Regions from separate parts of the Homo sapiens genome. Here region 2 is linked to region 1. Evidence: fine-mapped expression QTL. Tissue or cell type: aorta. Region 1 holds a variant in brackets; the other region holds the start of a gene. All regions are shown on one strand. Distances are between the middles of the regions. Region 1 overlaps TNS1 (tensin 1). Region 2 holds the start of DIRC3 (disrupted in renal carcinoma 3).

The links.
Region 2: DIRC3 starts here. The variant in region 1 is fine-mapped to the expression of DIRC3 in aorta (GTEx, PIP above 0.99). The same link has a PIP of 0.9 or more in sigmoid colon and tibial artery.

The regions. Positions count from the first base shown.
Region 1 is chr2:217,797,238-217,802,605 of GRCh38, forward strand. It overlaps TNS1 (tensin 1), which reads right to left. Exons shown (of 33, transcript NM_001387777.1): 33 at 2,554-5,368. Among named protein-coding and RNA genes, the nearest start is that of DIRC3, 9.5 kb to the left of the region's middle. RefSeq lists enhancers at 1,973-2,042, 2,073-2,122. The variant T/G (reference allele first, on the strand shown) is at 2,673.
Region 2 is chr2:217,787,872-217,793,239 of GRCh38, forward strand. DIRC3 (disrupted in renal carcinoma 3) reads right to left here and starts at 2,572. Exons shown (of 13, transcript NR_186301.1): 1 at 2,213-2,572.

The sequences.
Region 1 (5,368 bases):
CACCTCACTGCTGAGTCCCCTGAAAGGCCAGCTGCATCAGCTCGGCTCACAGGCCGTAGCTTGTCTCTCTCATCAGACACTCCTCCCCTGTACCAGGCCCACCCCTGAGGTACCTACATCCCTCTGCAGCTGGCCAGTGTCAGGGGATGACCTCCTGACCTCCCCCATCACACACCCAGGAGCCCTGGTCCACACCCTGGGAAGCCAGCCTACAGTCTAGCCCGTGACCCCCTATCTGACCAGTGACATCAGTTTGGCTTCCCACTTGCCCATGGCTCATCAGAGTCTGTCTCTCCCCTCAGAAGCCAGCCCTGAGAGCAGAGAAAGAGGCAAGAGCTAGGAAGAGCCTGGCTGAGAAGTCAGCTCACCTGGGTTCGTAGCCTGGCTGGGCCACTTACCCCAACTCTGTGATTTTGAGTAAGTGTCTTCACCTCTTTGAACTCCAGTTTCTTCAACTGTGAAATGAGGACAAGGATAGCCCTTACCTCTCAGGTGCACGTGCGTGAGAAATGATACCCAAGTGCTTAGCACAGGCTCTCTGGCACGTAGCAGGTGTTGGCTGAGTGCCAGCCTTCACCGGTGGTGGTGATGCTGAGTACAAGTTCTGCCAGCTAGAAACTGTGTGACCTCTCAGAGCCTCGGTTTCCTTACTTGTCCCTGTGTATAACAGCGCCTACCTCATGGGTTTGTTGGGATGACTCAGCATGACGATACCTAACAGAGAGCAGGGTGCAAGACATGTTCAGTCTCCACCTTGGACAGGGTCTGAGTTTCCTGTGTCTTGTATCCCTCATAGCAACAGATTTCAAAGTATGATCCGGGGACCCCAGGGGTCCCTGAGACCCTTTCAGGAGTGTTGAGGTCAAAACCATTTTCATAATGCTATTAAGCCATTATTTGACTTTTTTTTGCTCATTTTCCCACAAGTATACAGTGTTTTCCAGAGGCCCATGATGGGTGATATTGCAACAGATTGTATGCAGAAGCTTATATAAGAATCCAGCTATCTCCTGCTAAGCCAGACATGATTAGGCCTTTAAAAACTGCAAAGCACATGGTGGCTCACGCCTGTTATCCCAGCACTTTGGGAGGCCAAGGAGAGAGGATTGCTTGAGCCCGGGAGTTCGAGACCAGCCTGAGCAGCATAGTGAAACCTCTTTTGTACAAAAAAAAAAATTAAAAAATTAGCCAGGTGTGGTGGCGCACACCTGTGGTCCCAGCTCCTTGGGGGCTGAGGTGGGAGGATCACTTGAACCCAGGAGGTGGAGGCTAGTCATAGCGAGCTATGATTGTGCCACTACACTCCAGCCTGGGCGACAGAGCAAGACCCCGTCTCAAAAATAATAATAATAATAATGCAAAGCAAAGTCACCTTCTCACCCAGTGCTTTTTGTTTTAGAAAATATTATTTCTCACAAAAATGCTCTCTATATTAACATGTGATGAATTTATCACTATGGAAGTGAATTAAGTATTTTTAATGTTCTCAGTTTTAATTTATACTATGGTAAAAGATCAAAAGATATAATCCTTCTAAACAAAAGCCCTTTGGGGTCCTGAATAATTTTAAGAATGTAAAGGAATCCCAAGACCCAAAAGCTTGAGAAGGCTGCCCACACGAGGACCGTGAGGGTCACTGAGGGGGCTCAGCACAAACCTGCTCAAATAAGCTGATCTGAGCCTCCTCCAGCCACATGGTGAGCTCAGTGGAGAGCTAGCACCACGTCACTGAGTATTTTGGATCTCCCAGAGACCCCTGTGCTGTGCTAGGCATGTCTCAATAGGTCCCACCCCCAAACTTTCTGAATTCCAAAGAATTTGCCCAGGAGCCCTGGGCCTAGTGCACGAGTGAACCACACATTTGCCACTTGATGGGCACAGGCCCCAATAGATGTTGCCTGACAACCCGTGTTCCCCCTGTCTCTGACAGACCTCACTCCTTCCGGGATCAACCACTTCCCCATTCTCAGTCCCCGTAGTTTCAGAAGGCTCCAGAGGCAGTTGCGTGACCCAGATCCGGATAGAATGATTGGTTTCGAGTTAATCATATGAGCCAGGCAGGATCCAGATCACAGCCAATGATCGCATGTCCCAGTTTCTTGCTGAGAACATTGGGAGAAAAGAGCCCCCCTTTCTCCTAGAGCTACCGAGCTGGTGGGATGGAAGCCCAGAGCATCTGGGGGCACCGCCACTCAGATACAGCTTACCTGAAAGTTAAGCCAACTCAGAACCAAGTGATGGGGATGAATTCCAGATTCTACCATTTGAGCCCTTAAATGCAGCTAGGCCTGGCCTTCTCAGTCACTCGGGCCAAGAAACTTATCTTTTTCTTAAACAAGTTTGAGTTGAGTTTCTCTTGCAGCTGAAAGAGTCCAAATGAATAAACACAGGGAACCAGAACCACCACGCAGATGGTGGGGAGGCCGCTGGGAGGATTTGAGCTGTCCACTAGAGGCATCGCTGAAGCCCACCTGGATCTCTGGAGAGGCCCCTTTTTGCCCACCAGAGACATGGCAGACCCCTGTCCGAACAACACAGATAGATAACGGCACAGAGTTTTCTTTAACTTTATCATTTATAAAGCCATACAATGCATTGCAAAGAAACAAAGCAGCTGTACAGGAGTGGGGACGCGTCAGTGTACAATACATTCATGTCCAGGATAAGGAGCA[T/G]ACACCAGGATTTATACACGGTGGCAGCGGCTATAGGCACGATGATACAAAATATAAAGTATATTTCCATCTATATAAATACACAGCTGGGGTGGGGAAGGATGCTGGGTGATCTTGTTTCCCCCGCAGAGGGCCTGGGAGGCAGGGAGGGTGGTGGGAAGGGATTTCTTACATTTGTTCTCAATGATGGGTCTGAAGGGAGGAGAGAAATGGGGAAACACAGCCTGCACACACTGATGTGCTCTCACACACACGCACAAACAAAACACAGACACAGGAGAGTTTCAAACAGCTTAACACTGATTGGAAAACAAGCTTGGGACATCCCTCTACAGTAACTCCACTGCTGGCAAGAGCCCAGGCGTGGGATATGAACAGAGGTCCTCCAACATTTTGGACATTTGAGGACAGAGGTGCCAAGAGGGACAGATCTGCCCGAGGCCCCCACCCTGCCCCTCTGGGTGAACCACTTCTCACCTGGGCTATCGCTGAGACTCCACCAATTGGTTGGCCTACAGGCCTCACCTCCCGACTCCCCTCACTGCTGGGCGACATTGAATTTGAAGTTCCATTGCCCAGCACCTCCAACCCCGACTCCCAAGTTCCCTAAAGAAATGAGCAAAACACACGCACACACATACATCCACACTTGCACATGCGCACACACGTCCTGTGTTACCACTGGCCAAGGAAACGCGAGTCTCAGGATTCCAGGGCCTGGACCTGGGGTAAAGGGCTGCTCTGGGACTCTGCCCCCCAACCTCTTGGAGGACCCCGAGTGTGGGGGCAGGATTGGGTGTCTGCCTTGACTCACAGGATCTCCCCAGGTCCTAAAGCTGAAAAAAAAAGTGGGAGAAGATCCAGGAGGCAGGGGTGGTGGACAAAAGTAGGAGTGAGACTAAAAAGTGGGAGTGAGACTAGATTTGATCACACTCACCACCCTTCTGTGCCCCCTGGACAGCATGCTCCCCTGGAGCCCCTGCACAGGCTCATCAGAACAAGGCAGAATCTCCTACTCACTAACCTCCTGAGAGCCGTTTATAGGGGGATCACACTTGTCCAGGAGGGCTGCCCCTCCTGCTTTCACACAACCACTGGCCCCACCATCCCTCTCCTGGCCAGTCTCAGAAGACCCAGGGATCCTCAAAAACCAGGGGAGAAGGAATCCTGGCCATTGGTGTCCACAGCTTTCAGAGCTACTGGAGGAGACGCTCAGATGACATGGGTCAAAGGCCTTTCCCAAACTTAGGATGTGATGTATCTGTCCCTTAAGCGCCTGGCTAAATAAGAGAGCCAGAACACCGTGATAGCAGGCTGATCAAACCGCTCACTTCCTCCCTGTTTTCCTTCGCAGGTCCCCTCTCCATTGTTTTCTCGCCCAATCCTTCCCTCTTGCTCCCTTTGGGAAAAAGCCACGTGGAGCTCACTGGGCCCCTCCCCCAGCTGAAGGGACATGACCCTCCTCTGCCCTCTTCCCTCCAGACACCCAGCTGGACAGCTGGTGGCAGCACGGGACTGAACCTGCTGGGGTCTGCGTCGCTGCGATGTCCATGACTCCCTGGCTCTTTGTTGCCCATCTTCTCCCAGACCCTTTCCCATCCCAGCCCATGTTCAAGGCCAGACAGCGCTCTCCTGGCTGACACACAGATTCAACAATAAACAACAGTAAAATAGATTCAGGGAGGGAGAAGACAGAAGAAGATAAACATTTACAAAATAATAATTAGTAAAAGTGCTTGCTTTTAAAGGAAATCTTTGGCAAGAATATACTGCAGTGCGGAGTGTTGTGTGTGCGTAGGTGTGTGCATGGGTGCACAGCCCGCCGTGACACAGAAGGGCTCTGGTGCAGGGCCCAGAGGTGGGGCCACTGTGGGGACTGGGGAACCCTTCCCCATCATTCGCCTTGAAAAGTCACACTCTCAGAAACTGACTCCTTCCGCAGGGATGCTGGGAGGGAGTTACCAGCTTTCTGGCATGAATGGGTCCTCCCGCAGGGGCACACATGGCTCAGGCTGGAGTGGAGGGGCTGGCCATGCATGCAAGGTGGGCTGTGGTGGGTGGTGAGGAAGGGAAAAGCGACCGTGAAAGCTGACCCCAGACTCAGTCCTGGGCCCCAGCCAGGCTGCTTGAAGGGTCTGATACACCGCCCAGCCTCAAGTGTGGACAGAACATCCATGCCAGGAATAGGCTCCTGGGCTCTCCAGTGGGAGATGAGATATTTACAAAGGAAGGGGATGGGAAATATCTCCTATCTTGGAAGATAATTGGGGTTTGCTAGGGAATGAGGAGAGGGGGAAACCCAGATATTTGGCTTGAATAACCCAGAAGGAAGAGCACTTTGGAGGGACTTTGGTCACCAGGCACAAGGTTTCACTCTGGGAAGCAGGGGGTGGCCAGTGGGGCCTCTGCCCCTGCTCTCCACCTTCTGCAGACACCCTCCTTTCCAACTCCCTGAAACAGAACGTCCACACTGACACAGCTCCTTGGAGGAGAAAAAATACAAAAGACACACACGCACCTATGTGTGCCATACACACCCATGTCCCCGCATGCTCACACACTCGCTCAGGCCTGCAGAGTCAGGGACAGCTCCCCACACATCCTGGGAGCTGACTGCTGGGCCCCTGGCTTGCTGAAAAGTAAGGGGGCCAAAGGCTGGGACATGTGCAACCCCTCCCAATGCTGAGCCCCACACA
Region 2 (5,368 bases), 9.4 kb before region 1:
TAAGCCCAAAGTCTTTGGAAGCAGATAGAGATGGATTTGAATCCTTATGCAGCACTTACTAACAGAGTTGTTACTTACCTTCTCCGAGCCTTGGTTTTCTAATCTGTGAAATGGGAGTGATCACGGCCACCATTTTGAGTTTTTTGTAAGTGACATCCTGTGCATCTCATGCAGGGCCCAACAGTATCATAGACAGCCAGTAAATGTTACTTGCCTCCCACCATGTCACATGAGCACTGTGCTCGGCATTCTATACACAGAATTGTGAATATCCACATAACTTTGTCAGCTAGTTATTACTGGCCCATTTTATAGACGAAGAAACTGAGGCAACAAGAGGTCAAATAATTTGTCCGGGATCACATAAGTGAGAAACTAGCAAAGCTGACACTTGGGCCCATATTGGATGGATGTGAAGGCAAATCCTGCTCTGCCTGGGCACTCTGCCCCCATGTTCTGCCTGCAGGTAAAAGAGAGTGTTTTACTGTCCTTGTTTTCTAATAGGCTTCTCAGTGCTTTGATCCTACCTCTGCAGAAGCACCCACTACCACTCCTTTTAGGGAAAAGAGGACTATTTACTTTTTAATTTTACTTTCAATCAGTCAGATTCAGTTCCACGTTCATAGAGACTTGGGGTAGTTCAGTGAAATCAGAGCCTGGGTGTCCTTGGAGAAAGGTTGATGTTCATGCTCACTCTTTTTGTGGGGGTCATTGACTCTGAAAAAGAGGGAAGTCTAATAACTGAGTCTGGGAAATAAAGATGCCTGCATTTCAGGTTCTCTGACCCAGATCCCGGAGGATGGGGAGCAGCTGTTTCCATCTCCGCAGGTGCTAGAACCTCTAGGAATGTAGTCACTTGGAAGGGGAGAAGCAAGAGTGAGTGGAATAGAACTTCCAGAGGTCAAATCACCCGAAAGGTCCAGTGGAGCTGAACACTGCACCGTCTGCCACAGGAGAGGCGCTCACCTGCCCTGCCAAGCAGCAGGCCGGCTGCAGGGGAATGGACAGGTTGGCCTTGCAGACTCAGCGAGCAAGCACTAGGGCATGGGCTATGCAGGGCTGTGAGAGGGCAGCCCAGAGACACCCAGGTCCCAAAGGCCCAAAGAACGGGACATGGGGGTTTTGAGAGGGGAAGGATCTTGCCTAGGCCCCGTTGTGTCCAGTGCCCCTTCTGCTGAGCCACACCCTGGAGCCCTGGAGCTCTCTGGCTCCTGCCACTGCTGACTGCCTGAGTGGTGGTCATTGAGAAATGATTGAGAAAATCTGGGCCAGGTCCAATCCGCCACGAGGGATGATTGATAATGGGAACAGAGACTGTGGGTCTCCGTCCTCACCGCTGTACTGAAGCTTTTAATAATCAGCCTGTCTCTAAGTACCTGAAGACTCTCGGCTTCCAGCTGTCTATTAATTGTGCCTCTCAGGCCCTTGGACAGTTGATTCAGCCTACTGCCCACTGTGACCGCTTCCAGGAAAGGCAATGAGTGGCTGCGGTTCCCAAGTTGGCCACTAGAGGGAGCCGTAGCCCGTGGCAGCTCTGCCTTAACTGGCGGGGGAGAAGAAAACCAAAGGGTCACAGAATCCCTGCCTGTATGGACATCCCAAAGTCCTCCCTTAGCTCTCCCCAGTCCAAGTTTAGGCCCCTCCTGTTTTCAGAAGTTCTTGAAAAGGGAGGTCCATCCTCCCCTGAGGACCACTGGCAGCAGCTCCTGCCGAAACCCTGCCTACAGGTGCCTCAGCGGGGTGGGGCCTTGGGGGAGGCTGCCTGGGAGACAGAAGGCAGATGAGATGGGAAACGGAGGGACAGAGAGGAGGGAAGGCAGAGGGCAAATGCAGACAGGATGGGCTGGAAGGGAGGAGGCGCTGAAAAGGGAGACGGGGGAGACTGGAAACAGGAGAGAGGAGACCCCAAGGGGGAAACCTCGAACTCAGCCTCCCCCACCTGCCCTTCCTGCCGGTCCCAAATACTCATCCAGAGGAGGGCCCGACTCCCTCCCTCCAGTGTCTGCTGTTGCTCCCGGCCTGCCCTGTTTACCTGGCCAGCCACGGTCTCCCAAACACCAATCCAGGATTTGGGGTTATTAGAGGCTGGGGAGGGTGAGATCCTGGAGCAGGAATCGGAGAAGAGGAAGCGCAGTGAGACGGCTGTAACCCAGCACCAGGCACACACAGAACGCTGACGCTGCCCTGAATTCCACCCAGCTGCGGCTCTCACCTGATCTCCACCTCTCTTATATCTGCTTGGGATAGAGTTCAGCTGTTTTTAGTCATCTGAAGGACTGTCATTCACAGAAGGCTTCTCCTTCCCCGGCTGACACCTGCTGATACTGCAGCAGGAATGATCCAGGTTAGGTATCAGAAGCTCCTTCCAAAAGGCTGCCCCAGGAGGGGGCTTCAGCTTTCTGGGACACATCTCCTTCCTTCCTGGCCTCTGTCCTCGCCATCCTGACGTCTACGCAGGAGAAACCTTGGCCAAAGTGACTAACGGAAGCAAAGAGTAAAGCCCAGGAAAACACGTCGATTGGGGTGGGTGGGGGTCAAGGTCTTCCGAGCTGTCTATACTTGCTGTGTCTCTACTTCCTATTCACTCATCAGTTCACCAACTCTACAAATCTCGTGAGACTTTCATGAGCCTGACGCTGTGCTAAGCCACTTCCTCAGCCTCCTGCCCCCTACTGATGCTGTCGCTCTTTTCCCAAAGAAAAGGACAAGGATGATTTCTTTGTGGCCAAATTCAGTGTCCTTCTTCTGGGGCTCACTAACTTTGATCCTAAGGTGGTGGCTGGACTGTTGACCAGCCATTCTTTCCTTCTAGAAAAGAAGAAAAGCTCCTTTCCCCATCAAAACACCACCCCTTCTAGGTCCTCCTCCTTCCTCTCTGAGACCTCTGTCTTCTTCACAGGACCTTCTCCTCCTCTCCTTCCCTTCTCCTTACACAGCAATGTTCCCCTGCTTCCACCCACGACTCTCCTCTGTCTACAGTACCTCTGTGTCAGGATGACTCACAGCCTGCAAAGGCACAGCAATATTCCTATGTCTCTATTTTCTACATCACACAACCCTCTCTGCAGCACTAGCAAGAAACTTTAGGTTGTATCTAACACTTGGAGCTTAGATAGCACCAAGGCCTGGAGACAGGCCCACCTGGTCATCCAGTCTGTTGTCCTCAGAGATGTCCACCGTCTAGTCTGGGTGGCCCTGTGAGTTAAGCTGCTCTTTCTGCAGTCTCTAGACTCCACACATGGAGCATAGAAAGCTCTGCCCTGCAGCCTCAGGCCTTGTCCTCTGTGCCCGAGATACAGGGGAATGGACAGATTGACCTTGCAGAGGAGTAAGCACGAGGACAGAGGCCATGCAGAGAGGCAGTCACCTCCCTGGAGATAATGTTGAGAACTCCATGCAGCCACCCACCCCAACCCCAGACCCTTTCTCATTCTCTTTCTCCAGTCCAAGGGGGGCATTTGAACTGACCCAACTTGAGTCACGAACTCATCCCTGGACCAGTCTGCAGTATGACTGGAGGAAGTGGTCAAGATATCTCAATACACTGACATGGCCCCTGGTACCCATCCCTACACATCCCCCCCTTCCCATGAAAGAGGGGGACTCAAGCTGTTCAGCTACCCCCTCCCCATATGGTATCTAATATAACTCTTAAATCTTTCCCTCCAGCACATGTTGGAGTATGAATCAGAAATTTCCAGTTGTTCCCAATACCCACTCTCCTCTCCTCCTTTACTAATAACTCCCCAGAAGTATGGCTGTACTCATGGCTGCAAGGTATAAAAATGGCATTTCCCAGCAGCTAGTTGAGGCCATGTGACAGTTCTGGCTATTGTGATCTGAGCAGAAACAATGTATATACTGTAAATGTACCACATCCTTAAAGAGAAGGGCACGCCCTCTCCTTCCTCTTTTCCTGCTTTTCACTGACTAGAATGCAGTTGTAATGGCAGGAGCTGGAGCAACCATAATGGACCACATATTGAGGATGGCAGGGCGATCAAATTGAAGGGCCCTGGGGTCCTGACTAATTTCATAGGGGAGAGCTATAATACAAGTAAGACAAAAACAAATGGCCACATTTAAGTGTTTGGTAATTCAAAGTCTTTGTTATAGAAGCTGCACTAATATTCTAACTGATACAGAGCTAAAGAGATCTTCAAGCCAGGTACAGTGGCTCACGCCTGTAATCTCAACACTTTGGGAGGCTGAGGCAGGAGGATCACTTGAGCTTGGGAGTTCAAGACCAGCCTGGGCAACCTAGCAAGACCTCATCTCTGCTACAAAAAAAAAAAAATTGAAAAAATTAGCTGGGCATCGTGACACACACCTGTAAGTCCCAGCTATTCAGGGGGCTGAGGTGGGACAATTTCTTGAGCCCAGGAGGACAAAGCTGCAGTGAGCTATGATTGCACCACTGCACTCCAGCCTGGGCAATGGAGCAAGACCCTGTCTCTATAAAAAACAAAAACAAGAGATCTTCAGTCCATTTCTATAGCACTTTCCAGCTATGAGATTTGGAGCAAACTACTTAATCCTTCTGAGCTTTCATTTTCTTAGCTGTCTGCCTATTTCCCACAATCATTTTATAAAATGAATGAAATAGCATTTAACAAAGCACCTAATATAACATTGACATATACTTGGGGTTCAGTTGATGTTGAAACTGACAGCCCAGTCATCTTTACAAAATACCAACCAGATCCCCTGCCCCCTTGATTCAGAATCTTCAAACATTCCCACTGCTCTAACTACAAACACCAAACCCTTCCTGTGGCCTGCAAAGCCCTGCCTAGCTTACCCAGCCTCTCTAGCCCAACCCTCCCCACCTCCCCCAACCCTCCCACCTCCCCAAACCCTCCCCACCTCCCCCTGGCTCCCTTTGCCCACACTGACCTTGCAGTCCCCTCACTCCCTCTACAAACATTGATCAAGGGTCTTCCACAGGCCAGACACTGTGCTGGGACTTCACACATACAGACCTGGAGCCTTGCTCTTGCAGACTTTACAGTCTAGTGAGGGAGAAAGAAAAAAAGAAGTTCACATAAATAAATAAGCATAGCTAACATTTACTGAGCACTTACTACCTGCCAGGTGCTGTCTGAGCTGTTTTTGCCTACATAAATTATCAACTCCTACAACCCTCTGAGTTAGGTGTTACTGTTATCACCCCACATTTTACAGATGTGGAAACAAGCACAGCAGGGTCAAGCAACTTGCCCAAGGTCACACAGCTAGTAGGCATGGAGCCAGAATTTGAACTCATGTAGTCTGACATCATAGCCTGTGCATTCAACCACGAGTCTGTCCTGCCTTCAAATTCATGTCAAATTACAACTGTGAAATGTGCTATCAAGGGAGTGTACGT